4 linked regions of the Homo sapiens genome follow. The main gene of each other region encodes a partner of the protein of the gene in region 2 in a complex. Each region holds a gene or a part of one and is shown on either strand. Other genes may lie near its edges.

The links.
Region 1: SRRM1 (region 2) and BUD13 share a complex: the UniProt entries of both Homo sapiens proteins name them as parts of the minor spliceosome.
Region 3: SRRM1 (region 2) and TNFAIP8L2-SCNM1 share a complex: the UniProt entries of both Homo sapiens proteins name them as parts of the minor spliceosome.
Region 4: SRRM1 (region 2) and SNRPE share a complex: the UniProt entries of both Homo sapiens proteins name them as parts of the minor spliceosome.

The regions. Positions count from the first base shown.
Region 1 is NC_000011.10:116,748,970-116,755,992, forward strand, and holds part of BUD13 (BUD13 homolog), read right to left. Parts: intron 1-7,023. UniProt on the Homo sapiens protein: Involved in pre-mRNA splicing as component of the activated spliceosome. As a component of the minor spliceosome, involved in the splicing of U12-type introns in pre-mRNAs.
Region 2 is NC_000001.11:24,660,288-24,667,310, reverse strand, and holds part of SRRM1 (serine/arginine repetitive matrix protein 1), read right to left. Parts: intron 6,593-7,023; coding exon 6,512-6,592; intron 6,002-6,511; coding exon 5,915-6,001; intron 4,652-5,914; coding exon 4,507-4,651; intron 4,129-4,506; coding exon of another isoform or gene 4,087-4,128; intron 497-4,086; coding exon 386-496; intron 329-385; exon of another isoform or gene 224-328; intron 1-223. UniProt on the Homo sapiens protein: Part of pre- and post-splicing multiprotein mRNP complexes. As a component of the minor spliceosome, involved in the splicing of U12-type introns in pre-mRNAs. Involved in numerous pre-mRNA processing events.
Region 3 is NC_000001.11:151,152,508-151,159,648, forward strand, and holds the start of TNFAIP8L2-SCNM1 (TNFAIP8L2-SCNM1 protein), read left to right. Parts: upstream 1-4,141; 5' UTR 4,142-4,215; intron 4,216-4,670; exon of another isoform or gene 4,671-4,876; intron 4,877-6,158; exon of another isoform or gene 6,159-6,190; coding exon of another isoform or gene 6,191-6,745; exon of another isoform or gene 6,746-7,141. Other genes in the region: TNFAIP8L2 (tumor necrosis factor alpha-induced protein 8-like protein 2), read left to right, coding at 6,191-6,745. UniProt on the Homo sapiens protein: As a component of the minor spliceosome, involved in the splicing of U12-type introns in pre-mRNAs. Plays a role in the regulation of primary cilia length and Hedgehog signaling.
Region 4 is NC_000001.11:203,856,909-203,864,605, forward strand, and holds the start of SNRPE (small nuclear ribonucleoprotein E), read left to right. Parts: upstream 1-4,690; 5' UTR 4,691-4,751; coding exon 4,752-4,805; exon of another isoform or gene 4,806-4,819; coding exon of another isoform or gene 4,820-4,835; intron 4,836-4,938; exon of another isoform or gene 4,939-5,005; coding exon of another isoform or gene 5,006-5,047; intron 5,048-5,273; coding exon of another isoform or gene 5,274-5,287; coding exon 5,288-5,314; intron 5,315-6,754; coding exon 6,755-6,817; intron 6,818-7,697. UniProt on the Homo sapiens protein: Plays a role in pre-mRNA splicing as a core component of the spliceosomal U1, U2, U4 and U5 small nuclear ribonucleoproteins (snRNPs), the building blocks of the spliceosome.

The sequences.
Region 1 (7,023 bases), on a different chromosome or scaffold from region 2:
GACTCTGTCTCAAAAAAAAAAAAAAAAAAAAAGAAAGAAAGAAACAAAAAAGAAAAGAAAATATTTAAGGCATATGCAATAGAATCAAAGGGACAAAATATATCATTCATCCTTTTCTTAGTCCTTGTTCACACCCTTCCCCCACTCTGACAGCTATTTCAAACGTTTGCCACTCTAAAAGCCTGGTTCTCTCTCAGCTGATGTCCACATCTTATATTTTATCCATTCATTACACAAACATTTATTGAATTTTCATTATATACTAGGTACCATGGTAGACACTACATGAAAATGAGTATGACACAGCACCTGTCCTGATGAACTCCCAGACTAGTGGAAGAGAGAGACATTTAAACAAATAAATTAAAAGAACAGCATAAACTCTGGTAGAAATACGCATGGGGTGTCATGGAAACAGAATGGGTATCTTAATCAGCTTGGGGGAGGTATGATAAAAAGGTGACATGAGGGTTGGGCAAGAATGATCAGTAAAGGCTCTGTGTTAACTACAGCACTGGGGATGGAAGGGCCAGAAAGGGTCTGGAGGTCATTTCAGAACAGAATGAGCAACAAGAACAAAGGCACGGAAATAAGAAGTGGCCTGGTATGTGCAGCAAACCAAAGGCAAACTGGTATGGCTGGAACCTGAAGTATGACAAAGGGAACAGCCATGAGTCAAAGTTGGAAAGGCGCAGAGGCCAATGCATAATGAGCTGCGTAGGCCATGGTAAAAAGCTTAGATTTCATCCAGAAACGATGGGTTTAAAGCAAGAACTTAAACTGCATTTCAAAGAGATCACTCTGGAGGGGATCTGGGGCAGGAAAATCACTGCAATGGTCCAGGCAACAGATGATGAAGGCAATGATAAAGAGGGACGGAAGAGAGAAGACACAGGAGGCAAAATTAGTAAGACTAATTAGCAGCACTAATTGATTAGGTACACAAGGACAAAGAAGGAGGAGGCAAGTTAGAGAGCACAAGAGTAGGAGCAGGCTTACAGTAGAAGCTGATGAGTTCAGCTTTGAATACAATGCATTTGAAATCTCTCAAGTCTAAATCAATAGAGAAATCCAACAAACAGCTAAATACACCAGACCAAGATGCAAATACTGATTTGGAAATCATGTACATATAGGTCATAGTTGAAAACATGACTAGGTAAGAATCAGCCAGAGGGAGCACATAGAGTGAGAACAGCTAAAAATTATGGATGGAGCCCTGGGAAAGACTTAAGAGGTGCACAGAGGAAGAGGAGTTTGCAAAGGTGGCCAAGAATGATCAGAGAAAAGAACCAGGAGTAGGGTGTCATGGAAAACAATACAGGGGTGAATTTCAAGGAGGTAGTGAGTGGACCTCAAATCCCTTTAATTACCATGCATTCTCTTGGTCTTCTTATCTAAACTTCTTAAAAAGCCTGTATTCACTATTTGTTTCCTCACTTTTCATTCACTCCTTAATACATTAGAACCTGGCCATTGTTTCACTACACAACGGAACTAGCCCTTTCAGGTCATCACTGACATTCCTTGTTGCCAAATCCAATGACTCCTCCTTCCTCTTCCCCAAATCAGCAAACAGGTCCCACCAGCTCACCCCTGACCACATCCCCACTTCCTATTCTCTTACTAACCATCCTTACTACCACTGCCTGCAAGTCGTAGTTCAGACACTCATTACTTTCAGCCTGAGCTACTGCAAAAGCCTTGTATCTGTTCTACTTCCAATCTTGTACCTTTCAAATCCTTCATATTACTGCTATAATGGATTTGTCTATCTAAAATGCAGAGCTGTTTTTAATCCTTCCGTGTCTCCCCTTTACCTCTAGGGTGAAGACCAAGCTCCTCAGATAGGCTTCCAGGGCCTTCTGTGATCACGGTCTGCCAACCTCTCTCATCCATCTCACGCTTTATGCTATCCAACAACAGCAAATTACTTAGGGACCCCCACCACCTGGTAACACCATGGTGTCTCATAGCCTTATGACTCTGCACATATAGGACCCTCTTCCTTTAATATCCTTCCTTTCCTTCTTATCTTGGCTGGTTACCAACATCCCTTAAAACTCAGCTCCCACATTTCATCCGTTAGGAAGCACTTCCTGATCACTCACATCCTCCTAAGGCTCAACTTACTCTTCCTTTGTGCTCCCAAAACATCTTGAAAATCTTCTATAGTAACACTAACCAAACAGCGTTGAAACTGTCTGTCTTCTATTCTAGATTGAAAGTGAGCTCCTGGGCTCAGGGGCTATCTCTCTTTAATCATGGAATCCCTAGTACCTACTACCTAGCTGCTTACACTTATAACATGTATGCTAAGACTTTCCCTTAAGGGATGAGTGGAGTGAGTAACAGAGGGCTTTAAGAAGGGAAGCTTGGCCGGACATGGTGGCTCACGCCTGTAATCCCAGCACTTTGGGAGGCCGAGGCAGGTGAATCACCTGAGATGAGAAGTTCGAGACCAGCCTGGCCAACATGGTGAAACCCTGTCTCTACTAAAAATACAAAAATTAGCTGGGCGTGGTGCTCACGCCTGTAATCCCAGCTACTCGGGAGGCTGAGGCAAGAGAATTGCTTGAACCTAGGAGGCGGAGGTTCCAGTGAGCCAAGATCGTGCCATTTTGCACTCCAGCCTGAGCAACAAGAGCGAAATTCCGTCTCAAAAAAAAAAGAAGGGAAGCTTATTATAAATGGCATCCTCTCCAACCTTAGAAGCATGGATGGTATTCCAAAGCACCAAGGAAACCACTGTTTTTTACCTTGGAAATAAGGTCTTAAGAGAGTTACACTAATATGATAATACAAAGGACATATGAATAACAAACACCAAATCCTAAGCAGAATCAGAAAACAAATTGCAGGAGAACTCACAGTGGAAAGAGCTTTGGACCAGAGAATCAGGAACGCAGAGTTCTAATTCCAGCTTTCTCAGGGAAATTGCATGACTCTAGGCAAACTGCTTATTTATTGGGCCTCAGTTTCTCTTTTTTTTGAGACGGAGTCTTGCTCTGTTGCCCAGGCTGGAGTGCAGTGGCACGATCTCGGCTCACTGCAAGCTCCGCTTCCCGGGTTCACGCCATTCTCCTGCCTCAGCCTTCCGAGCAGCTGGGACTACAGGCGCCCGCCACCACGCCCAGCTAATTTTTTGTATTTTTTTTAGTAGAGACGAGGTTTCACCATGTTAGCCAGGATGGTCTCAATCTCCTGACCTCGTGATCTGCCCGCCTCGGCCTCCCAAAGTGCTGAGATTATAGGCATGAGCCACCGCACCCGGCCCCGTTTCTCTTTCAATTAAGAGAGGCTGGGTAATTATCTTATGGGTTTTTCCAACAGATACTATATATCTGTTCCGGAAATATTCCCTTGCAGCAGGCCGAAAAGAGACAAAACTAGAAAAGATGATGAAAGATGAATAACAAAAAGAAAGCAAGGGTGACAAAGGGAAATAAGAGAAGAAATCTAGGATAAAATCAGAACAAGAAGTGGAAAAAAGCAACTGAGAAAAATGAAGACAAATTAAATACTAGTAAAAAAAAACTAGGTCAGGGAGAATTCTAAGTTTTGGGTCCAAAAATTAAAAAACAAAAAACAAAAACTCGGTAGCAGGGAACATCTGTAGGGTTGTGCTATAAAAAGATCTACTTCTGGCTGTATGTATGGCAAATGAGTGTTCTGAAAAATCCTCCTTCTACCAAAAAGCCTACATACAGTGAACTGCAAACGGAACTAGTAAGCTAGCCTGTAACCACAGCTACCCTAAAGATATCTGCCAAGATGAGGAACTACAGTCAACTTATAGATATCTGCCAATATCAGAAAGAAGAGCCTTAAATTTTTTTATTCTGGAGTTGGGGTCTCACTATGTTGCCTAGCCTGGACTTAAACTCCTGGGTTCAAGCGATCTTCCTGCCTCAGCCTCCCAAATAGCTGGTACTACAGACACACGCCACCACACCTGGCTGTTGGATTTTGACGGCACCCCGAGGGACAGAAGACAACGCCTTAGGCCCATATAAGGTGGGGAGACAGATTCTAGACATTGCAGAGTAACCCGAACAGACTAACCTATCCTCAGTTAGCAACTATAAAACCTAGACAAAACAAAAAAAATAGGTATTTGAAGGTGTGGAAGAGTGACCAAAAGTAAGTATGAACTGGATGAAGTCTATATGTGAAAAGAGATTTGCTGGAGGGCAACTTCCCAAACAGCATGGCTCATGAAGGCAGAAAGCCACAGGCTTACTGGCTTGAGGAATTAGTGCAAAGTGGGCAGAACAGCTAGGAAATTAGGGGGGAAATCTTGGAAGAGAAGGAACTACAAAAGAGATGAACCTCAAAATCTACATACAAACCCTAGTCAAATCCTTGGCTAACTGTTAAATGACACATGTGCAGAGAAAATACCATCAGGCCAATTAAAAAAATGGCAGCTAGAAACTAAAAGAACTGAGCAAAGATTGTAGCTGCCGTCCACTGCAAAGGAGACAGTTTGGAGTTCAGCTATGTTAACTACCTGCTAGAATAAAAACTAACACACTTAAGAGGAATACAGTGTAACAGAACTCAAAGTCTCTACAGTGTATCATTCATGATGCGTAGTAACAATTTTAAAAAGTGACCAGACAGGTAAATAAACAGGAAAATGTAATACACACTGAAGAAAAAGCTGTCAATAGAAACCAATCCTGTGGTGAATCCAATGTTGCAATTAGCAGACAGGACTTCAAAGCACTAATTACATATCATAAATATTTTCAAGAAGAGGAAAATGTCTCATAATGAACAGATGGGAAATCTCAGCAGAGAAATGTAAGCTATTAAATGGAAATTTTAGAGTTGAAAAACAAAATAAACCAGCTAAAACAAAAAATCCACAATTGATAGTAACTGATAGAAAAATACAAACACAAAAAACCCAGAATACAGGCGATCTAAGATCTAAACACCTTGACCTCACTGACTTTTATAAAACACTACCTTATATAGCTACAGAATATACGTTCTCTTCAAGTGCAAAGGAAACATTCAGAAGATAGACTATCCACTGGGCCATAAAACACACCTTAACAAATTTCATTTTTATTATTGTTTTTTGATACATGGTCTCACTCTGTCATCCAGGCTGGAGTGCAGTGGTGCAATCACAGCACATTGCAGCCTCGACCTCCCTGGGCTCAGTGATCCTCCCACCTCAGCCTCCACAGTAGCTGGGACTATAGGCGTGTGCCACCATGCCCGACTAATTTTTGTATTTTTTTGTAGAGACAGGGTTTTGCCATGTTGCCCAGGCTGGTCTCAAACTCCTAGGCTCAAGCAATCCGTCTGCCTTGGGCTCCCAAAATGTTGGGATTACAGGCATGAGCCACTGTGCCTGGCCAACAAATTTCAAAAGATCAAAATATTACAGTATATTATCTGACCAAAATGGAATTAAATTATAAGTAAATAGCAGTAAGATATCTAGAAAAGTCCAAATATTTGGAATTAATGCACTCCTAAATAACCCATGGAGCAAAGAATAAACCAAAAGGATAATTAGAAAATATTTTGAACAAAATCCAACATACATTCCTGAAAACAAAACTCTCAGCAAAACAGGAATAGAAGGGAACTTTAACTCCATAAAGGATATCTACAAAAAACCTATACAGCTACAACACATTTAATAAATGTGTTGTAAAAACTAAATGTTTTCTTCCTGAGATTAGGAACAAAGCAAAGATGTCTGCTCTCACTACTTCTATTCAACATCTGCACTGAAGTGCTAGCTAATGCAACAGGGCAAGGAAAAGAAACAAAAAGCATCTAGATTGTAAAGTAAGAAATTAAACTGTATGCAAAGATGGAAGACCCTCTAGGTACAAAATCTGATGGAATCTATAAAAAGCTATTGTACAAAGTGAGCTTTACCTGAAGGAAAACAACTGACAATACAGTGTAACAGAACTCAAAGTCTCTACAGTATATCATTCATGATGTCCAGTAACAATTTAAAAAAGTGACCAGACAGGTAAATAAACAGGAAAATGTAATACACACTGAAGAAAAAGCTGCCAATATAGAAACCAATCCTGTGGTGAATCCAATGTTGCAATTAACAGACAGGAAGGACTTCAAAGCACCAATTACATATCACAAATATTTTCAAGAAGAGGAAAATATCTCATAATGAACAGATGGGAAATCTCAGCAGAGAAATTAAGCTATTAAATGGAAATAGCTCAAGCAATGGAAATGCCAGTGATAACATTTAAACTTTCAAGTGTAAATTAGAATTCTGAAAAACTGTGAACTCTTTAACTTCCCATTATTTAAAGAGTTTTGTGATAAGACCGGAAGTGATGTTAACAAAAGTGATTTTCTGATATTGTATAGTGGAAATATGTCAACATTTGGAAGGTCTGAACAACTCAGCAAACCAATATTTTACAAATGACCAATGCATGATGTTATAAAATCATGCATGGGTAAAAGATCCACTCAAAGTATTAAAAAAATTAATATAACAGTAAGGAAAGTTCTTTGATCTGGTTTCAGGTTCCACATAGCTCACCTTTAAGAAACCAGCACTTGTTGAGTTTTTGTGTAACATTAAGAAATATAATATGCCTTCTCTTTCTAACTACCTATGTGTGAGGCTAAATTTTCTTTCTATACTTCAACTGAACAAATCACAACAGACAAATACAGAGTCAAGTTACCTATTATTAAGTCAGACATTAATGAGATTTGCAAAAATGTAAATCAATGCCATCCTTCTGTTTTTTCACTTGGAAAATGTAATTATTTTTCATTTAAATATACAGTAATTATGTTAACATAATTAGTTTATTTTTTTTTGAATGAATAAATACTTTTTAAATGTCTGAGTTTTAATTTATAATATGGTAAATATCAATATATATAATCCACATCAACAAAAGCTTTTTGAGGTCATCAGTAATTTTTAAGAGCGTAGGCCAGGCACGGTGGCTCAAGCGTGTAATCCCAGCACTTTGGGAAATCGAGGCAGACAATCATATG
Region 2 (7,023 bases):
AGGTCCATTTAAAGTATACAATTAAATGATTTTAGTATATTCATATAGTTCTGCAGCTATTACCATCCCCATGTCCACCCCACCCTAATCTGTTTTCTATCTCTATAGATTTGTGTATTCTAGACTTTTCATATAGATGGAATCATACGTGTTCTTTTATGACTGGCTGAACAATGCTAGTCTGCTTACTCTAATAAGATATAATCATCAGAAAGATTCAGAGATCCTTTTGTAGTTCATAAGCATGATGATTGGGTTTTCACATGCACACATGAGCTGTGCCTCTCTCCAACCTTGTTAGGAAGTGAGCACCATTACTCATCTGATGTTATCAGGGGCGGGGGGAGTTGGGGAGATGCTCCAGTTAGCATATTTGACAAAGTACCTTCGTCGTGGTGGTGGTGTGGGAGTCCTGCGCCGTCGAGGAGGAGGGGCGGGAGAAGGAGACCGTCGCCTTCTGGTGGGTGGTGGGGATGGACTTCTCCTCCGTCTACCACTAAACCAAGAAGAATTATAGTTAATTTTTTTTCTTTTTTTTGTGTGTGTGTGATGGCGTCTCACTCTGTCGCCCAGGCTGGAGTGCAATGGCATGATCTTGGCTCACTGCAACCTCCGCCTCCCAGGTTCAAGCAATTCTCCCCCCTCAGCCTCCTGAGTAGTTGGGATTACAGGCACCCATAATCATGCCTGGCTAATTTTTTAAAATATTTTTGTAGAGACGGAGTTTCACCATGTTGGCCAAGCTGGTCTTGAACTCCTGACCTCAGGTGATCTGCCTGCCTCAGCCTCCCAAAGTGCTGGGATTATAGGTGTGAGTTACCACGCCTGGCCTATATAGTTAACTTTGAGTCAGTGGCATTTATAGTTAAGTGACCCAGAAGACACGGTTTCAATTATCATTAACCCCAAGGGCAGCAATGGTTACTAAGTTTCAGAACAGTGTTTTTCAAACTACAGGTCAAGATCATCAGTCAAGACCCTGGGTGGCAGCATTAAAAAACTTAATAAAACCAGAGTGTTTTACTTGTGACAAGGGTAAGTACCGTTTTGTGAAATTTTTCTTTTACTCTGGATCACAATACCAAACATTCTTGACATGACACAGAGTGAAAAAGTTCGGCAACAGCACATAAGAGCACTGCTTTTTATTGGGGATGCACATTAGAACCACCTAGGAAGCTTATGTGAGATTTATGCCTACCAGGTCTGGGCTAAGGTCCAGCCAGGTGTTTTTGGGAAAGGCTCTCCAGGTGATTCTAATTCCTTATTAGGAATCAACTGCTTTAGAGACTCTAATACAGAAATTCAAAAATGCCAATAGTCACAAGTGGCTTAAGACCCAAGTCTGGACGTCTCTGCTCCAAGCTCTTAATTTTTTTTGCCCAGGACAGGACTCATGCTTCCTGTGAATCTGGAATTATGTTTTGTCTTGGTTCCCGTTAGAAACTAAGAAATCTCTGTTAACTGAACAGACAAAATCCTAAAAGTCACCACTAAATTTTTCAACTTAAATCTGCTTATGCTTTGTGGGGACTAAGACCTCACACTAAATACATATAAAATATTCAAAACCAGGCTCTATCTCCCCTTCTTTTCTTGAGACAGAGTCTCGCTCTGTTGCCCAGGCTGGAGTGCACTGGCACGATCTGGGCTTACTGCAAGCTCTGCCTCCTGGGTTCACACCATTCTCCTGCCTCAGCCTCCCAAGTAGCTGGGACTACAGGTGCCCGCCACCACACCCAGCTAATTTTTTGTATTTTTAGTAGAGACGGGGTTTCACCGTGTTAGCCAGGATGGTCTTTATCTCCTGACCTCGTGAACCACCCGCCTCGGCCTCCCAAAGTGCTGGGATTACAGGCGTGAGCCTCTTTTTTTTTTTTTGAGACGGAGTTTTGCTCTTGTTGCCCAGGCTGGAGTGCAATGGCACGATATCGGCTCACTGCAACCTCCACCTCCCGGATTCAAACGATTCTCCTGCCTGAGCCTCCCGAGTAGCTGGGACTACAGGCATGCGCCACCACGCCCGGCTAACTTTTTTGTATTTTTAGTAGAGATGGGGTTCCGTCGTGTTGGCCAGGCTGGTCTCAAACGTCTGATCTCAGGTGATCCACCCAACTCAGCCTCCCAAAGTGCTGAGATTACAGGCATGAGCCACCGCACCCGGCCTCTATCTCCCCTTCTAAAATACGATACTGAAGCATAATTCCAAATAATCCTTCCTCCATCTCTAAATCCTAGGAACCTGATGGCAATTTCTAATGGCATTAAACTTGAAGCTGCTGGTATATAACTTAAAATACTTTTTAAATGACGAGAAACAAAACAAAAACATCCTGGAGTAGAGCAATAAACATTAGTGTTGATTTTACTGCTGTGAGGAATCTCTTTCCAGAACAGAAAGTAGTGCCATAATTTGGTGGGGGGGTGGGGAGGGAAGGGGAGATGAAAGAGAAGAAATTGCACCACTAATCTAACTCTGTAAAGCAATTGTTTAGTTGCTGTGCTAGCAACTTCACAAAAGCCAGAGATAATTATAGCTGGGAAAGGAATGCTTTAGCAGCCAAACTAATCTTTTTTAGGTTTTTATCTTTTATTATCATGGAGCAGTTTCCTCCACAGTGTAAATACCCCGTGCTTTGCTCCATCACAAACACTGCTCACTGGTTCCTTTCCAAGAAAACACTCTTATTGATGAGATTACCTAAAACAACACAGCTTCAAAAACTGAGCTACAAAAAGGACAGTGGGATAGCTTCAGCAAGGATAAATACTTCAAAATTCAGTGGCAGCTAAGGCCCCAAAAGCAGAAAGCTGGTTAAGACAGACTAGTGTAATGCCAAATGTATAGGTCTAAGATCCAACTTTGTCACTTTGCGGCCCTAAGAAACTACCCCATCAGGGCCGCTATCTTCTCACTTATGAGAGTAAGGCCTGAATTAGGGATTTGGCTCTAAAATTTTACAGTTTTATGGTCACAGTGACACTAATAATCAAAAGTTTCAATAAAGATATGCAGGTCGGGCCCAGTGGCTCATGCCTGTAATCCCAACACTTTGGGAGGCCGAGGCGGGTGGATCACCTGACTTTAGGAGTTTGAGACCATCCTGGCCAACATGGCGAAATCCCTTCTCTACTAAAAATACAAAAATTAGCTGGGCATGGTGGCATGTGCCTGTAGTCCCAGCTACTCAGGAGGCTGAGGCAGGAGAATCGTTTGAACCTACAAAGCAGAAGTTGCAGTGAGCCGAGGTCGCACCAATGCACCCCAGCCTGGGTGATAGAGCCAGACTCCATCTCAACAAAAAAAAAAAAAAAAAAAAAAAGAGAGCTATGCAACCCACCTTTCTAGTACTGGAAAGACTGAACAGGGCCAAAGCCTTCCATTCGCTTTTATTTATTATTATTATTATTATTATTATTATTATTATTATTTTTGAGAGGGAATTTAGCTCTGTTGCCAGGCTGGAGTACAGTGGCGTGATCTCAGCTCATTGCAACCTCCGCCTCCTGGGTTCAAGCGATTCTCCTGCCTCAGCCTTCCGAGTAGCTGGGATTACAGGCACGCGCCAACACTCCCAGCTAATTTTTGTATTTTTAGTAGAAATGGGGTTTCACCATGTTGGCCAGGATGGTCTTGATCTCCTGACCTCGTGATCCTCTCACTTTTAATATTTCTAAAGTTTCTCCCTAGTTTTTCCTTGCCCTCCCTAATGTCACCACAAATACAAAGTCCCTCCCCCCAAATCTAAGGAGCAATAATCCTATCTCTGGAAAAGTATCCAGATACTGTTAAAAATCTGCGTGCTGCTTGATGTAAGTTGATGCAAATTATCACAAAAGAGCACAACCAGATATTAAAAATCTAAGTTCAAATAAGGGTCTAAACCAAATAGCTCATGTATAATTCTCCCTATCATTAATCTAATGTGTTAAAAAAAATACTCAAACCAAAACAACTTAGGATCTGCACATTCACAGCCACAGCCACCATATATTTAAGAATGAGATGAGGTCACCTAAATAGGAAATTAAGTCACTACAATTTTTGACATGTAACCCTAATTTACAAAGTAGTGTCTAACCAACCTTTTAGTCACTGGCGATTGCCATCGCTTTCCCATCTGCATCCTGAGAGCAGTGGAGAAAAACAAATGTCAAGAATTCCATTCACTAAATTATTTACTTGGGTGGATTAAGTACCATTAATGGAGACATTTTTAAATATTCAAAGATGTTCAGGAGTTACTGCTATAATAGTTTGGTTTATTTTTCTAATCATGCACACATATATGACATGGTGGTTTAAAATTTACCAATTCTAAATTAATTATTAATAACCACCAATAAAGCAAAAACAAAACAAAACAGAAACCCTAAAAAGCAAACAAAAATCCAACCACATCCAAATACTTGAAGGAGTTAACCAAATTCTCAAATAATCCCAAGTTATCAAATTTCATCACAATTACAGAACATCAGTGAACATCACTGAAGCAAAGATGTTACCGAGGGGAAGTCTCTTTTTGGCGCTTTCGTGGTGATGGAGAAGCACTCCGGGAAGGGGAATGTCTCCGCCGCCTGCCAACCTCACCATTCTTCACATGGGATCTCTTGGGTCGTTCATCTTCTGAGGAGGAGGAGGAGCCAGAGTCTATAATTACAAAATTAAAAAAATATTACATTAGGTTTGTGCTTGAATCTGTCCAAGTTTTCTGAAATCTAGGTGGATGGAGTGTTCACTAGGGTAAGCAAGCATGTATACAGGCCATCAGTTCTGAACAGAATCATTATCAATATATGATCAATGATTTCAAAGCCAAGCATATTATTTAAATAAGACATAGAAATAATTTCCACAGTGTAATCCAATCAAGATGGCATACTCTAAGAAGTTTGAGCTGGGCACGGTGGCTCACCCCTTTAACCCCAGCATTTGGGAGGCCAAGGCAGAAAGACCGCTTGTGCCTCCTGAGTAGCTGGGATTACAGGTCTGCACCATCATGCCTAACTAATCTTTGTATTTTTAGTTGAGACAAGGTTTTGCCATGTTGGCCAGGCTGGTCTCGAACTCCTGACCTCAAGTGATCCATCTACCTCAGCCTCCCAAAGTGTTGGGGTTACAGGTTAAGCCACCATACCCAGCCTGGTATATTCTTACAATAAAAAATGCAAATAGTAAAATAATAGGGTAGATTATTATTATTTTTTTTGTGGAAACAAAGCCTTGCTCTGTTGCCCAGGCTCCCAGGCTGGAGTGCAGTGGCGCGATCTCAGCTCACTCACTGCAACCTCTGCCTCCTGGGTTCAAGGGATTCTCCTGCCTGGGCCTCCCAAGTAACTGGGATTACAGGTGTGCGCCACTATGCCCGGTTAATTTTTGTATTTTTCGTAGAGATGGGGTTTCGCCCTATTGGCCAGGATGGTCTTGAACTCCTGATCTCGGCCTGCTCACCTCGGCCTCCCAAAGTGCTGGGACTACAGGTGTGAGCCACTGCGCCCAGTCTAGATTTTTAATAGGGAAAGATGTTCTAAATATACTGTTAAGTTAAAAAGTGAGGCAACATATCTACAGTTGAGCTTCTGTGGGGTTTTTTCTTTTCCTTTTTCTATATGCACAGAAAATTTCTGAATAAAAGCTTTAGGAGGTTGGAAAAAGAATGATACGTTTCCAATTTTATACTTCTGTTTTCTGTTTCACTATTGTATCCTAGGGACCTATTACTTTTATAACAATGTAACAGAAAATTAAATTTTGCAAAAGGACTTAAAACCAAAAAAAGAAACAATCCTGCCTCCTCAGACAGATTTCTATGTAGGCAAGTAAGTACTCATGCTGCACACACAGATGTTTATATACCAAGTATTTTTTAATAGGAAATACAGGTAGAAAAAAAACTTTCATCACCATCCATACCAGATGAAGACTGCTGGTTTTGTCGTCTGTATTGGCGTCTCTGCTGCACAGAATCTGCTGCAGCCATTTTGCCACCTTTATCTTCTTCTGAAAGATGGATGCATTTAGAAAGTGTTTCTTTAGTTAAGCATATAGAAAATTTGCAATTTGAATAGGAAAATAGTCTCTCAAACCTTCATTTGGTTGGATCAAAAATACAACTACTATATATTTTTTTTAAAAAGAGTTTAAAATGCCAATTCACAGGCTGATTTAGACTATCTTCACCAAATATAATAAAATTTATTTAGGCATTTACTACAGGTCAGGCTGGTGCCAAGCATTTTACAAGCAGATACAGTTAACTGTCAAAAACCTCTACTGTCCCTATTTCGGAGATGAAAGAAGAAAGGCTCAGATAAGTTAATTAAAACAGAAACAGTTAAATTCTGGAATGGGGGATTCCACCCAAGTCTGTCTGCCTTCAGAGTCTTAGCTCTTACCCTATACTTAATCTTCAAGCAGAAGGGGATGACCAAATGTGCAAAAAATCAAAATCAGCTTTAAGAAAAACAAAAACAAACAAACCAAAATCACAAAAAAAAACAACAAACTTACCCGATTCAGATAACTCTACTTTTCTAGGCTTCGGTGCTGGTGAAGGGGATTCTCTTTTCTCAGTACCTTTATGTTTTGTCACTAAAAAAGAATAAGAGTGGAAAAAAGCTTACGTACAAAAAAAGGTCTATACAAGATGCTTTTCTTTTAATTTTTAAAAATTTATTATTATTTTTAAATAAAGATGGGGTCTCACTATATTAGTCAGGCTAGTCTTGAACTCCTGACCTCAAGCAATCCTCCTGCCTGAGCCTCCCAAAGTGTTGGGATTACAGGCACAAGCCACTGTGCCCAGCCAAGATGCCTTCCTGCTATTACAAAAATGGGTGTGACTACTCTCAAAAAGAATTTATGAAGACTTAAAAAATTCCTGTAAGACCTTGTTGTCATATCTGAACATTATCTGAAGTGAGACAAGAATTTTTAAATGTTTAATGAAAAGCCTCAAAAAGTTCTACAATGATTTTCAAATCTTGAGATTCTCCCAAGAAAACCAACAGTTAAAGGAAATT
Region 3 (7,141 bases), about 130 Mb from region 2:
TGGCCAACATAGTGAAACCCCGTCTCTACTAAAAATACAAAAATTAGCCGGGCGTGGGGGTGCGCGCCTGTAATCCCAGCTACTTGGGAGGCTGAGGCAGGAGAATCACTTGAACCCAGGAGGCAGAGGTTGCAGTGAGCCGAGATCATGCCACTGCACTCCAGCCTGGGCGACAGTGTGAGACTCGATCTCATAAATAAATAAATAAATACCCCAAACAAAAAAAGAGTAAAAGCTGTGAACTATCTCCAGCTATGTCAGGCTGACTTACTTGACTGCTTTAAATCACACTAAACTTACTCTTTCTGAACTGATATGAGAGTATTGATCTTAACCATGGTAAAACCTCACCTAAAACAAACATCGGACTGTTCCATCCTGAATACTTTTCCAAATAACTGAAGTTTATCCAATTAAGTGCAAAATATCTTCATTTTGCTTCAAAGTAGAAATTGCTCAAAAAAGTACTATTCACTTCCTGTAGATTATACAGTGGAAAGAGCACCATTGAAAGTCATTGAGACTTAGCTAGATTCATCTCTGGAGTATGGCTTTGGATAAACTACTTATCTCTAAGTCTGATTCTGTCTTCTGTAAGTGGACATACTACCTTCCTGCCTACTTCTTAGGATCAAATAAGATCCTGTAGGTGAAACATTTTGCAAATTCAAAAGTGTTTTGCACATTTAAGATACCGTCATTTGGCCAGGGTACACAGTGACTCACTCCTGTAATCTCAGCACTTTGGGAGATTGAGGCAGGAGGTCTGTTTGAGTCCAGGAGTCCAAGGCTGCAGTGAGCAGTGTGAGCCACTGTACTCCAGCCTGGGCAAGATAGCAAGACCCTATCTCTAAAAAAAATTTGTGGCCAGGCGCAGTGGCTCACGCCTGTAATCCCAGCACTTTGGGAGGTCGAGGTGGGTGGATCACAAGGTCAGGAGTTCGAGACCAGCCTGGCCAATATGGTGAAACCCCATCTCTACTTAAAATACAAAAAAATTAGCTGGGCATGGTGGCACATGCCTGTAATCCCAGCTACTCGGGAGGCTAAGGCAGGAGAATTGCTTGAATCCGGGAGGTGGAGGTTGCAGTGAGCCGAGATCACGCCGCTGCACTCCAGCCTGGGTGACAGAGCGAGACTCCATCTCGAAAAAAAAATTGTTCTTGGCCAGGTGTGGTGGCTCATGCCTGTAATCCCAGCACTTTGGGAGGCTGAGGTGGGTGGATCACGATGTCAGGAGTTCAAGACCAGCCTGGCCAAGATGGTAGAAACCCCGTCTCTACTAAAAATACAAAAATTAGCCAGGCATGGCAGTGGGTGCTTGAAATCCCAGCTACTCAGGAGGCTGAGGCAGAGAATCAGTTGAACCCGGGAGGCAGAGGTTGCAGTGAGCCGAGATTGCACCACTGCACTCCACCCTGGGCGACAGAGTGAGACTCTGTCTCAATTGAAGAAAAAAAAAAAAATGAGAGAGAAAATAAAAGACTTCCCCATGAATGAAGTAAATGAACATTATAACATGTGACTCCTATGTTACTACCATTTTCCCCTCATATCCTGGTTCTTGGATATGTTTTGACTTTATTCTTTCAGCACATATTTATTGACCACAGTATGTGCCAAGCACTGTGTAGACACTAAAAGATAATCTGAGCTTAGTGGGTAGACAGTTAATAAAATCACAAATTACAGACGGGCGCTATGGCTCATGCCTGTAATCCCAGCACTTTGGGAGGCCAAGATGGGCAGATAGCCTGAGGCCAGGAGTTCGAGACCAGCCTGGCCAACATGGCGAAACCCTGTCTCTACTAAAAATTCAAAAATTAGTCAGGTGTGGTGGCAGTGTAATCCCAGCTGCTCAGGAGGCTGAGGCAGGAGAATCACTTGAACCTGGGAGGCAGAGGTTGCAGTGAGCTGAAATCGCATCACTGCACTCCAGCCTGGGTGACAGGGACAGAGCAAGACTCTGTCAAAAAAAAAAAGAAAGAAAGAGAGAGAGAGAGGAAGGAAGGGAGGGAGGGAGGGGAGTCTGAAGCTGGAGAGGAAAACAGGTAAAGACTAGGTAGCAGAATTCTGAATCCAGAAGTTATTATTGTATTTGCATCTTCTTATATTTTTATTCCCTTTATTCTTTTTCTTTTTTCTTTTCTTTTTTTGGAGACCGAGTCTCACTCTATCACCAGGCTGGAGGGCAGAGGCGCGATCTCGGCTCACTACAACCTCTGCCTCCCTGGTTCAAGCGAATCTCCTGCCTCAGCTTCCCGAGTAGCTGGGACTACAGGCATGTGCCATCATGCCCAGCTAATTTTTGTATTTTTAGTAGAGATGGGGTTTCACCATGTTAGCCAGGATGGTCTTGATCTCCTAACCTCGTGATCCGCCCACCTCGGTGTCCCAAAGTGCTGGGATTACAGGTGTGAGCCACCATGCCCAGCCGAGACAGGGTTTCACCACGTTGGCCAGGCTGGTCTCAAACTTCTGACCTCAGGTGATCCACCCACCTTGGCTTCCCAAAGTGCTGGGATTACAGTCATGAGCCACCGCGCCCGGCCTGGGGCAACTTTTTTAAAGTTTGCCATGATCTGATCTTTTTCCTTCTTCACTTATCTCTCAAACAACTTACATTCCAGACATAAATCACCACTTCCTGAGAACGTCCTGTATTTTGTTTTTTTCCTGCATGTGCTTATGCCGTCCCCATCATCTGGGACTTCTTCCCCATCTCTGGCTATTAAGTAGTTGAATCTATCTTTCCAAGTCTACCTCTTCAGCCCTATCATAATTAAGCTTCTTTACTCTCAAAATTATTTAAATCTCCATTAAAGTTAATGGCATTGTTTGACTAGTATTACTGTTCTTTATGTTTAAGCTTATTTCCCTCGCCAGATTCCCCATAAGATTCTTGATAGCAAGTGTTTTTGTCTCATTCAACAACTGTGACTTCCAGGATGGGTGCAGTGGCTCACGCCTGTAATCCCAACACTTTGGGAGACTAAGGTAGGAGGATTGCTTGAGCTTAGAAGTTCAGCCTGGGCAACATAGTTAGACCCTCCTCTCTACAAAAAAAAGGAAGGCTTGTGAGCCTCTGGTCCCAGCTACTTGGGAGGCTGAAGTAGGAAGAGCTCTTGAGCCCAGGAGGTCAAGGCTGCAGTCAGCTGTGATGATGCCACTGCACTGTGGCCTGGGCGACAGAGTGAGACCCTATCTCAAAAACAAAACAACAAACAAACAAACAAAACCCAATTGTGGCTTCCCCTCATTTTGTATCCCTTTAGCAGCTACAAAGTAGCTACTACAGTAGCCTACTCAGTAGGCCCTGCGGGGTGCGTTGGCTCACACCTGTAATCCCAGCACTCTGGAAGGCCAAGGTGGATCACCTGAGGTCAGGAGTTCAAGACGATCCTGGCCAACATGGTGAAACCGTCTCTACTAAAAATACAAAATAAGCCAGGCATGGTGGCACAGGCCTGTAATTTCAGCTACTTGGGAGGTTGAGGCAGGAGAATCACTTGAACCCGGGAGGCAGAGGTTGCAGTGAGCCGAGATCACCCCATTGCACTCCAGCCTGGGCAACAAGAGCAAAACTCTGTCTCAAAAAAAAAAAAAAAAAAAAAAAAAAAGGCAACTCAGTAGGCTTGTTCCTCTACGCTAGTGATTCAGTGCTGTGCTGGCACCTGCTGGTCACCTGTGGTGCAGCAGCCCTGGTCCCAGCACCTTCCTCCCTTCAGTATTAAGGGTTGTGACAGTCTGTGCTCTTACCTGGCAATCACTGGAATAATATATTAAATACTTGCCCCACAGCACCACCTTTCAATCTTCAGAACTTTTCCCACTGACCTCCTACCCCAGAAATTTGGGCTTTACATCCTTCCCAGTACTGTAGAAATGTAAGGACAGGATCTTCAGGAACTGGGCAGCAAGAAAAGAAAGAAGCAATTTGAGAGTGGAGGATGCAAATCCCTTTCCCCCCTTCAAAGAATTGAGACTATTTCCAACAGAATTCCACTCTTTTTGACCTTTGTCTTATTTCTAGGTTGCTCTTGGGCCATAGGCCTTCTTGGTGACAGAAGTGATGAACCGGAGGTTAAGCAGAGAGTAGGTAGGCGGGGCTCAAGGGGTGGGGCCAAGCCAAAGGGCTCTCACACTAAGTGAAGCTTCTCCATTCTGTAAGCTTTCCGGGAACATCCAAGGCAAGACTGGCACCCAGCACAGCAGGTGAGGGACCGGCAGTGACAGAATGGTAGACTTTAGGGGTAATGGTGGCAGAGGAATCTCTAGCTCTTTCAGTCTTAGCTTTTCATATTGTGAAACTCTCGCTTGTACAATTCTTGGGTCCTTTGTAGAGCTTAGCTTAGTTTTTCTGGTGGCAAGGCAGCCTCTGAAAGACCTGGTTTTGGATGCGGTGGGGGCAGGGCTGAGGGATGCAGGTGGATCCACATCCATATGGATGTGTGCGAAATGCAAGGAAATCTTAGGAAACAAGGAGATAGATGGGTAAGGGCCAGAGGGAGAGTATGGCCAGGCCAGAGGATCATAGGGAGGACCCAGACAAGAGAAAAAGGGAGACTGAAACAGGGAGAGAGGGAGAAGACAGCGGAATAAATGTGAGACGGCAATGGGGGCAATGGAGAGCTGGGTAACAGGAAGGCCAAGGAGGAAGGAAGGCTCACATGGAGCAATCTCCTCTTCCGGCTGGGGAGCATGGTCCAGAAAGCCCCAAGGCAAGCTGGGAGCAAAGCAAGGTTCAGGTTTCCACTGGAAGGATTCAGCTGGGGAAAAAAACCCCCACAGTCTCCACCTCCTCTGCCTCTTCAGACTCCCATTTTGGTTTGGGGGAGAGGGCGAGGCTGCTCCTCACTGCGGTCACAGCCACATCCTGCAGAGCAGAGGAGGGGGAAGTAAGAAGCAAAACAACCAGAAGAACCACAGGCGAAGACCATGGGGAGAGAACCCTGGACACATGGAGCTGATATGCCACCAAGAGGGTCCTGAGTTCAGTGTAGCAGAAGGCTCAGACCTTCAGGACTGCCTGCCCTTCTTGAGGTGTTGGCTTCTCGTGCTTCCTCAGTGTGCTTTAACCACACTGGGAGCATTCCGGGGAAGGAGGTTTCTCTGGATTATTTGGTTTGAAGCCCATCTTTATAATTTACTAGTGACTTTGGCCAAATTGCTATATTTCTCTTCGCTTCAGTTTTCTCATTGCAAAATGGGGATACCTACCCTAACCTTACACAGGATTGGGAAGGCTAAGATGACTGACGTAAAGCACTTGCATATAGTAGGTTCTCAGTAAATGTTAGTTATTACTCCTATTAGGATTCCTGGGATGCTTATGCTTCTTACTTTAAAGGAAGTATAGTGCACTAGCTGCCACTGGCTTTGGGGGCCAAAAAATGAGTTGCGTTTGATCTTGGGTAAATTACTTAATGTAAGTATCATTTGCTTAGCTGTAAAACAAGGATGGTAATATCTATGCCACACAGACATATGGCACAGAGTCAGTGTCCAAAAATGGTAGCTGTAAGAATTCTGTCAGGCTGGGCGTGGTGGCTCACGCCTGTATTCCCGGCACTTTGGGAGGCCGAGGTGGGCAGATCATGAGGTCAGGAGTTCGAGACCAGTCTGGCCAACATGGTGAAACGCTGTCTCTACTAAAAATACAAAAATTAGCCGGGCGTGGTGGTGGGTGCCTGTAATCCCAACTACTTGGGAAGCTGAGGCAGGAGAATAGCTTGAACCCGGGAGGTGGAGGTTGCAGTGAACAGAGATCACACCACTGCACTCCAGCCTGGGTGACAAAGCAAGACTCCGTCTCAAAAAAAAAAAAAAAAAGAATTATCTGTCAGGTAAGCCCTGTCTTCACTGCAGCAGCAACAGCCTACTTCCCCTTGAGATGTAACTTGTGCTAGGCTAGCCTCCCGTGTGCCCACATTCCTCCAGCCGGGGCTATCGCCACTCCCGTGGGCTGTTTTGGAGTCAAGATTTGCTACAGCACTAAGGGGAAAAAGCAGGCAGGAGCAAGGCATAGAGGACTGAGGGGCCCCAGGGGGCGGAGAGGATGACAAACAAAGATGATGATGACATGGAAACTAAAGAAGCAACAGAAAAGGGAAAAGCCATTTCTCTCTTTCTAAGGAAGCCTGTGGCCTTTCTTCTAGTGACTGACCACATACCCCACTCTCCAGGACCCATGGAGTCCTTCAGCTCAAAGAGCCTGGCACTGCAAGCAGAGAAGAAGCTACTGAGTAAGATGGCGGGTCGCTCTGTGGCTCATCTCTTCATAGATGAGACAAGCAGTGAGGTGCTAGATGAGCTCTACCGTGTGTCCAAGGAGTACACGCACAGCCGGCCCCAGGCCCAGCGCGTGATCAAGGACCTGATCAAAGTGGCCATCAAGGTGGCTGTGCTGCACCGCAATGGCTCCTTTGGCCCCAGTGAGCTGGCCCTGGCTACCCGCTTTCGCCAGAAGCTGCGGCAGGGTGCCATGACGGCACTTAGCTTTGGTGAGGTAGACTTCACCTTCGAGGCTGCTGTTCTGGCTGGCCTGCTGACCGAGTGCCGGGATGTGCTGCTAGAGTTGGTGGAACACCACCTCACGCCCAAGTCACATGGCCGCATCCGCCACGTGTTTGATCACTTCTCTGACCCAGGTCTGCTCACGGCCCTCTATGGGCCTGACTTCACTCAGCACCTTGGCAAGATCTGTGACGGACTCAGGAAGCTGCTAGACGAAGGGAAGCTCTGAGAGCCCTGAGCCTAGCACATTCCACCTTGACAAAATGGTTGACTGAGAAAACACAGATAATGGGCTTCCTAACCCTGCTCACCTGGCACTAACACTTTTCAATCTTCAGGCTTCATTCCTTCCCAAGAGTGCTTTTGACTCTGAGACCAGCCCACCCCCAAACAGCTAGTGGAGAAGGAGCAATGCTGAGGGGTGAGGCCTCTCTCCCACTCCAGCCCCAGGACAGGAAACAGAACTGCCTGAAAAAGGTGAAGTGAAACTTGGATCTCTATTTCTCCCATAAGGGACTTCTGAAACAGGGAAGCCCCCTCCCATGTGAACCAAGGAAAGGAGGCACAGCCCAGAGAACCCCTTTGGGGATACTAAAGACAGAAGAGGGGAAGGTGGCCCTTAGAG
Region 4 (7,697 bases), about 180 Mb from region 2:
CTTATCTGAGATCTGGCCCTGCTGGCTCCACTGAGTTATTTTGAAGTAAATCTCAAGCATAGTATACCTTGCTTTTTTTTTCATCATGTATATTGGATATCGTTTCATATCGGGACACAAAGACCTTTAATCTTAGTAACAGTTGCATAGAATTGCACCCTATGAAGATGCAGTAATTTATAATAGTCCCTATTGATAGACATTTAGGTTGCTTCCCATCTTGGTATTTTAAACAATGTTGTGATGATTACATTATACCACACATGTAAGTTTGTATGGAGGATAAGTACCTAGAAATAGAGCTTAATAATTTACAGTACCACTATTTTTTCATTTCCAATCTAATAAGAGAAATAGTACTTCAGTGTAGTTTGGTGTGCCTTTCTTTTTTTTCTTTTGTGACAGACATTCTGAATGTAGCCTTTCTGTTATGAGTGAAGCTGGGCATCTTTTCATGTTTAAAGACCACTCCTATATCCTTTGCTACAAACTGATGCTCACATCCATTGCCAATTTTAATTTTGAGTCTTTTTTTGTTTTGAGACGGAGTCTTGCTCTGTCACCCAGGCTGGAGCGCAATGGCGTGATCTCCACTCACTGCAACCTCCGCCTCCTGGGTTCAAGCAATTCTGCCTCAGCCTCCCGAGTAGCTGGGATCACAGGCGCCCGCCACCACACCCAGTTAATTTTTGTATTTTTAGTAGAGATGGGGTTTCGCCATGTTGGCCAGGCTGGTCTTGAACTCCTGACCTCAGGTAATCCGCTGGCCTCAGCCTCCCAAAGTGCTGGGATTACAAGAGTGAGCCACCGTGCCCGGCCCAGGCTTGGCTTTTAAAAGTGCTGGTAGAGCAGCTGGGCGCAGTGGTTCACACCTGTAATCCCAGCACTTTGGGAGGCCAAGGCAGGTGGATCAAGAGGTCAGGAGATCAAGACCATCCTGGCCAACATGGTGAAACCCTGTCTCTACTAAAAATACAAAAATTAGCCGGGCGTGGTGGCACATGCCTGTAATCCCTGCTACTCGGGAGCCTGAGGCAGGAGAATCGCTTGAAGCCAGGAATCGGAGGTTGCAGTGAGCCAAGATTGTGCCACTGCACTCCAGCCTGGTGACAGAATGAGACTCCGTCTCAAAAAAAAAAAAAAAAAAAAAAGTGCTGGTAGCTTCAACCTTGGTTTCCTAGACCCCTAATCCCCCATATAAGAAAGCATACCACCCTTCTAGAGAAACCGTGTGGTGAGGGCTGAGACTACATAGAGATAGGGACCCAGCTGAGGCCAGTCTTCCAAAGATACACACCAAAGCCGTAGATATGTCTTGTGGAGCAGAAGAATCACTCAGCTGAGAACCTGCCCAAATTCCTGACCCATGAAGTCATGAATTATAACAAAATGGTTGTTGTTTTAAGCTACTAAGTTTTGGAATATTTCTTACACATCAGTAAAGACCAGAATAGCATTCTTTTTCAGGAACTCTACATATTAGTAAAATTAATCATTTTTCAGATGTAATGCAAACATATTTTTCCTAGATGTTTTGACTTTGTTTATTGTTTCCCTTTTTAGTCATGCATAATTTTATTTTTATGTAGTTGCATTTATCATTCTTTTTTTCCCCTAAAAACCAGCTAGAGCATACAATTGAGGAAAAGATAGAATTTTTAAGAAGAAGAGAGATGAAATAGCTAAGGTTGAACTTAAGAAATCACAAGGTCTATATGAAGACAACCAAAAACTTTTGAAAGATTCAAAGGAAAGTTTGAACAAATAAAAAGACATCATGTACTTGGATTTAAAAAAGTAATCCTGGCCAGGTTCAGCTAACACGTGTAATCCTAGCACTTTGGGAGGCCAAGGCAGGAGAATCACTTGAGGCCGGGAGTTCAAGACCAGCCTGGTCAATATAGCAAAACCCCGTCTCTACTAAAAATACAAAAAGTTAGCCAGGTGTGGTGGTGCACACCTGTGGTCCTAGCTATTCCAGAGGCTGAGGTGGGAGGATCGCATGAGCCCTGGTGGGGAGGTTGTAGTGAGCCGAGATTGTACCACTGCATGTCAGCCTGTGCCATATCAGGAGATCCTGTCTAAAAAGAAGGTGGGGGAGGGCGGTGGGGAAAAATAAATAAACACGCTGTCTTAAAGTCAGACAACATGACACTCTGTTGGGTTTGGGTGGGGGAATGATTTTTTTAAAGACTGGGTCTCACTATGTTGCCCAGGCTGGAGTGTAGTGGCTATTTATAGGTGCCATTACAGCTCACTGCACTCTTGAACTAGGCTCAAGCAGTCCTACTACGTCAGCCTCCCCTAGTTCTTGGGAATACAGGCCATGCCACAAAACCCAGCTAGGGAATCTTTTTTTTTTTTTTTTTTTTTTGACAGGGCCTGGCTCTGTTGCTCAGGCTGGAGTGCAGTGGCATGATCTCTGCTCACTGCAACCTCTGCCTCCCGGGTTCAAGAGATTCTCCTGCTTCAGCTTCCAGAGTAGCTGGGACTACAGGCAGGCACCATCAGGCTCGGCTAATTTTTAAATTTTTTGGTAGAGCCAAGGTCTCATTATGTTGCTCAGGCTGGTCTTGAACTCCTGGGTTCGAGCAAGCCTCCTGCTTCTGCTTCTCAAAATGCTGGGATTACAGGCATGAGCTCGCGCACCTGGCTGAAATTTTTTTTTTTTTTTCTTTGAGACAGAGTCTTGCTCTGTCACCCAGGCTGGAGTGCAGTGGCGCGATCTCGGCTCACTGCAACCTCTGCCTCCCAGATTCAAGCAATTCTCCTGCCTCAGCCTCCTGAGTAGATGGGACTACAGGCGCCTACCACTACGCCCAGCTAATTTTTGTATTTTTAATAGAGACGGGGTTTCACCATATTGGCCAGGCTGGTCTCAAACTCCTGACCTTGTGATCTGCCTGCCTCAGCCTCCCAAAGTGCTGGGATTTACAGGCATGAGCCACTGTGCCCAGCCCTGGCTGAAATTTTTTAAAGGAAATAGTTATCCCATGCATTTGCCAGCTTTGTGTAGTTTATTTATTTATTTATTCTTATTTATTTTTTTGAGACGGAGTCTCGCTCCGTCACCAAGGCTGGAGTGCAGTGGCATGATCTCGGCTCACTGCAACCTCTGCCTCCTGGGTTCAAGTGATTCTCCTGTCTCAGTCTCCCAAGTAGCTGGGATTACAGGCATGTGCTACCATGCATGGCTAATTTTTGTATTTTTAGTAGAGACAAGGTTTCACCATGTTGCCCAGGCTGGTCTCGAACTCCTGACCTCAGTTGATCCACCTGCCTCGGCCTCCCAAAATGCTGGGATTACAGGCGTGAGCCTGGCCGCTTTGTGTAGTTTAAAAATCACTTTCAACTCAACCCCTTTCTGAAGTCGTTATTACTATTATCCCCATTAAACAGAAGCCCTCAGAAAAGCTAATTTTGATTCTGCCATTTGCCCTAATCCGTGTTCCCTTAGGCAAGTCCTTTCAAAAGTCTAAACTTCAGTTTCCTCCTCTATAACATGTGTATGCCAATTAAGTGAAATCTCTGCCAGGCCACAAGCCATGACACAATGGAAAGGTAGGTGGACTTTGGGGTCAGGCACACCTACAAATTCCAGCTGCTCCACTTAGTAGCTGTGTTATCCAGGGAAGGACATGTTCTGACACTGGCTGACGCCTAACTGTGTGCACACATAGACAATTATTTCATTGAATCTTTAAGCCCCTGAGTAAAGTTAATCTTTACTATAATCTCCGTTTTGGAAACTAAGCCAAGACATGGCGAGGCTGAGTAATTTATCCTTGGTCACCAACTCTAAAAGAGCTGGATTTGCGCCCAGCATGTGGATTTCAGCGTCTTCCTGGTAAATCGCCACCCTCAGTTGCCACCTGAACAGTAACTCTCCACGAAATGGATGAGAATTGAATCCGTAACTGGAGGGAACCAGGCGTCTGGCTTTGGAATGCAGACCGCCTCTGGCCGACTGCCAGAGGTGGGAGGCCTGAAGTTTGGGCTCCTTGCCGCCCTACCCTTTCCACCACAACGCTGCTATCAAGCCTAAACTCCAGCAAAATAGGCTTTAGGAAAGGCACGAAATTAACTCATTTTACACATAGAGATACACACTGGGACGATTTTGGCTTTTCAAGCTAACTCAGAAAATGGAGATACAGGCCGGGCGCGGTGGCTTACGCCTGTAATCCCAGCACTTTGGGAGGCCGAGGCGGGCGGATCATGAGGTCAGGAGATCGAGACCATCCTGGCCAACATGGTGAAACCCCGTCTCTACTAAAAACACAAAAAATTAGTCGGACGTGGTGGCAGGCGCCTGTAGTCCCAGCTACTCGGGAGGCTGAGGCAGGAGAATCGCTTGAACCCTGGAGGCTGAGGTTGCAGTGAGCTGAAATCGCGCCACTGCACTCCAGCCTGGGCGACAGAGCGAGACTTCGCCTCAAAAAAAAAAAAAGAAAAGAAATTGGAGACAGGACGGCACTCCTCCTACCACGGCCACTATACAACCGAAGGCACCTCCTCCCGCCTCCCTCCAGGTGGCGCTGTAGGACCGGCCCACCTTCCACAGCGCAGACGCCTCAGTTTGGCCTCCCTCGGAGGCCATGCAGCGAAGAAACGTGACTTCATGGCTAGAGGGGCATTTCCCAGGAGCCGCCCATGCCGCCGCGTGACCTTCACACTTCCGCTTCCGGTTCTTTATTCCGGAAGTTGCTCTCAGAGGCAGCGTGCGGGTGTGCTCTTTGTGAAATTCCACCATGGCGTACCGTGGCCAGGGTCAGAAAGTGCAGAAGGTTATGGTGCAGCCCATCGTATCCTACGCAGGATGTCAGGACTAGGAGGTTCGGGTCAGAATACGGGGTGCGAAGGCGCAGGCTGAGGGCAGGCCTGGGATAGTGGAGTACGGATCCACATCCCATGAGCCCCCGGGGCTACCAAGACTGGAAGAAAGCGCGGGTAGTTGAACCGTGATGGTGGGGAGGTGGTCTTGGGGGGACCCCTGCCGTGGGGAATGCAGGAATGGACGCGGCAAAAGGAGGGAAGAGAACTTCAGGTGCGGAGTGAAAACGGGAGTTAACGGTTTTGGGAAACTCCAGGGGGATGAAAGTGGAATGGATGTTCTTTAGTCTTTAGAAGACCCGTAACGAATGCCCAGCTGGGCACTTGTTGTTTGCGTAAGCACCAGACCTCGCGTTTAGTAAACAAAGGTGAGACGGGAATAGCGTCGTCCGGTTGTTTCAGGAAGCAGAGTCTATGCTGCTTTTGTATTTTTTCCTTAGCCACTGTGGTGCAGAACCTCATCTTCAGATACTTACAAAATGTACGTAAGTTGCTTGTTTCGTAACTACTTTTTAAATAAGAGGTGAACTGATTTAGTTTTTTGTGTTAACCTGAGCGATCGCTGTGTTCTAGAATTTAAAAATAGATGTAACTGGAGATTGGAGGGTAATTGAGGGGAAGGAGTACTTAGAAAGCACTAATGTGATGAAGTGGTGTGTATCCATGCCACTTCCCAACATGCAAAGAATTGTATCCATTACTTTGCAAGATCAAAAATACTTTTTAATTCCAAAAAGTATTATTAGCAGACTTGACCATGGTATTTGGGCATCAGTAGTTTTGTTAGTAGTGATTATGGCTAGAACATTGGAACCTCTCCCCTTTAGGATGAAACATTGGAAGAAAAACCCAGCCAACTTAAACCATGTCAAGAGGTGGTGTGTTTAATACCTGTGGGAAAACTTAAAGACGAAAAAAGGAAGAGAGAAGGGGTAGCTTCAGAGGAGTTTAGTGGCAGCTGCTTTCCTTTGAGGGAAATTTTAGCAACTTAAATTTTATAGTGTGATAACACAACTGAAAAACATTAATTTCAGGTGATAATAATTCTTAACCACCTGAATTGAGGGCTCCTGTCCTAGTTGTTAGGTGTGTGACATGAGAAGGCTTTGTTTTGGAACTGGATTTTGCTGCAGGAGATAAGCCCTTGGTCATTAGAAATTACTGCTTTGTGCTATGCTGTCAAAAACTTTCACTCTTAATAGATTGAGACCAGAAGCAGTAAGAAATATTGAGTCCCAAAATCACAGGAAAATTATTAGCTTATACAGTTCCAATATAGAACTTATTAAATGAAAATTCTTTTTGAGGTTATTATTATTGGTGAATAATTCTTAGATATGGGCTAATTAGTTAAAACTTTTGACTTACATTCATTACAATTTTTTTAGGAGCCATATTTCTCTTGTCGTTTGACCAAAATGGTTAGGTTTTGTATACTTCAATTTTTTGGGGGGCGGGGGGCGGGGAGATCTTGCTTAATGTTGCGCAGGCTTATATTGAACACCTGGCCACAAAGCGAATTATTCCGCTTTGGCATCCCAAAGTATGGGAACGGTGTGAATCGAGGCACCTGGCCTGTTTTTCTTTTCTTTTTTTTGAGACGGAGTCTCACTGTGCCCAGGCTGGAGTGCAGTGGCGCGATCTCAGCTCACTGCAACCTCTGCCTCCCGGGTTCAAGCGATTCTCCTGCTTCAGCGTCCCGAGTAGCTGGGACTACAGGCGTGCGCCACCACGCCCAGCTAATTTTTTTTGTATTTTTAGTAGAGATGGGGTTTCACCATGTTAACGAGGATGGTCTCTATCTCTTGACCTTGTGATCCACCTCCCTCGGCCTCCGAAAGTGCTGGGATTACAGGCGTGAGCCACCGCGCCCGGCCCTATTTTTCTTTTTTTAACGTTTCCACTTTTATGATTATTTCAGAGATCGCGGATTCAGGTGTGGCTCTATGAGCAAGTGAATATGCGGATAGAAGGCTGTATCATTGTGAGTATCCAGGCGATTTCATCTCATAGCAGTTCGGTCGTAGAAAAAGACTTAACAGAAAGTGTCTAGCCAGAACAGTGTATAAAAAGTCAAAGATCCAACCTAAGGAAAGTTTTTCAGGTGCTGCTGTTTAGCCTTTTTTCATTGTTGATAGATAAGGATTGGGTAGTTTTTAATAGGGAAAATAACTTTTAATTCATTTTCTTTCCTCTGTCTATGTTGAGAAGAAAATTTGTATTTGATTTTTGAGAAAGGGCTTTGTTCTGTTGCTTAGGCTGGAGTGCAGTGGCACAATCATGGCTCGTTGCAGCCTCAACCTCCCGGGCTCAAGTAGTCCTCCTGCCTCAGCCTCCCAAGTAGCTAGGATCAGAAGCGTGCACCATCACAGCCTGCTAAATTTTTATTTTTTATAGAGATGAGGTCTCACTGTGTTGCCCAGGCTGGTCTCAAACTCCTAGGCTCAAGTGATTCTCCCACCTCAGCCTCTCAAAGTCTTGGGATTACAGGCATGAGCCACAACGCCTGGCTGAAAATTAACTTTTAAAAATTATTCGAAAAAAAAATATTGAGCGACAATGTTAGTATGGAGAGGGGGGACAAAATAAATGAAATTAGGGAGGGTGGGGTTATTTGTTGTGGGTTAGGTGATACCTGAATAGAGAGCTCAGTGGGGTTAGTTAAATAAGGCTTCTGGGATAGCAGGCTACCCTAAATTTTTTTTTTTAAGTTGGGGTCCGGCTCTGTCACCCAGGTGCTCTCAGCTCACTGCAATCTTGAACTCCTTGGCTCAAGTGATTTTTCCACCTCAGCCTCTAGTAGCTGGGAACTATAGGCATACACCACCAGGTCCAGCTAATTTTTAAATATTTTGCTGGGCAAG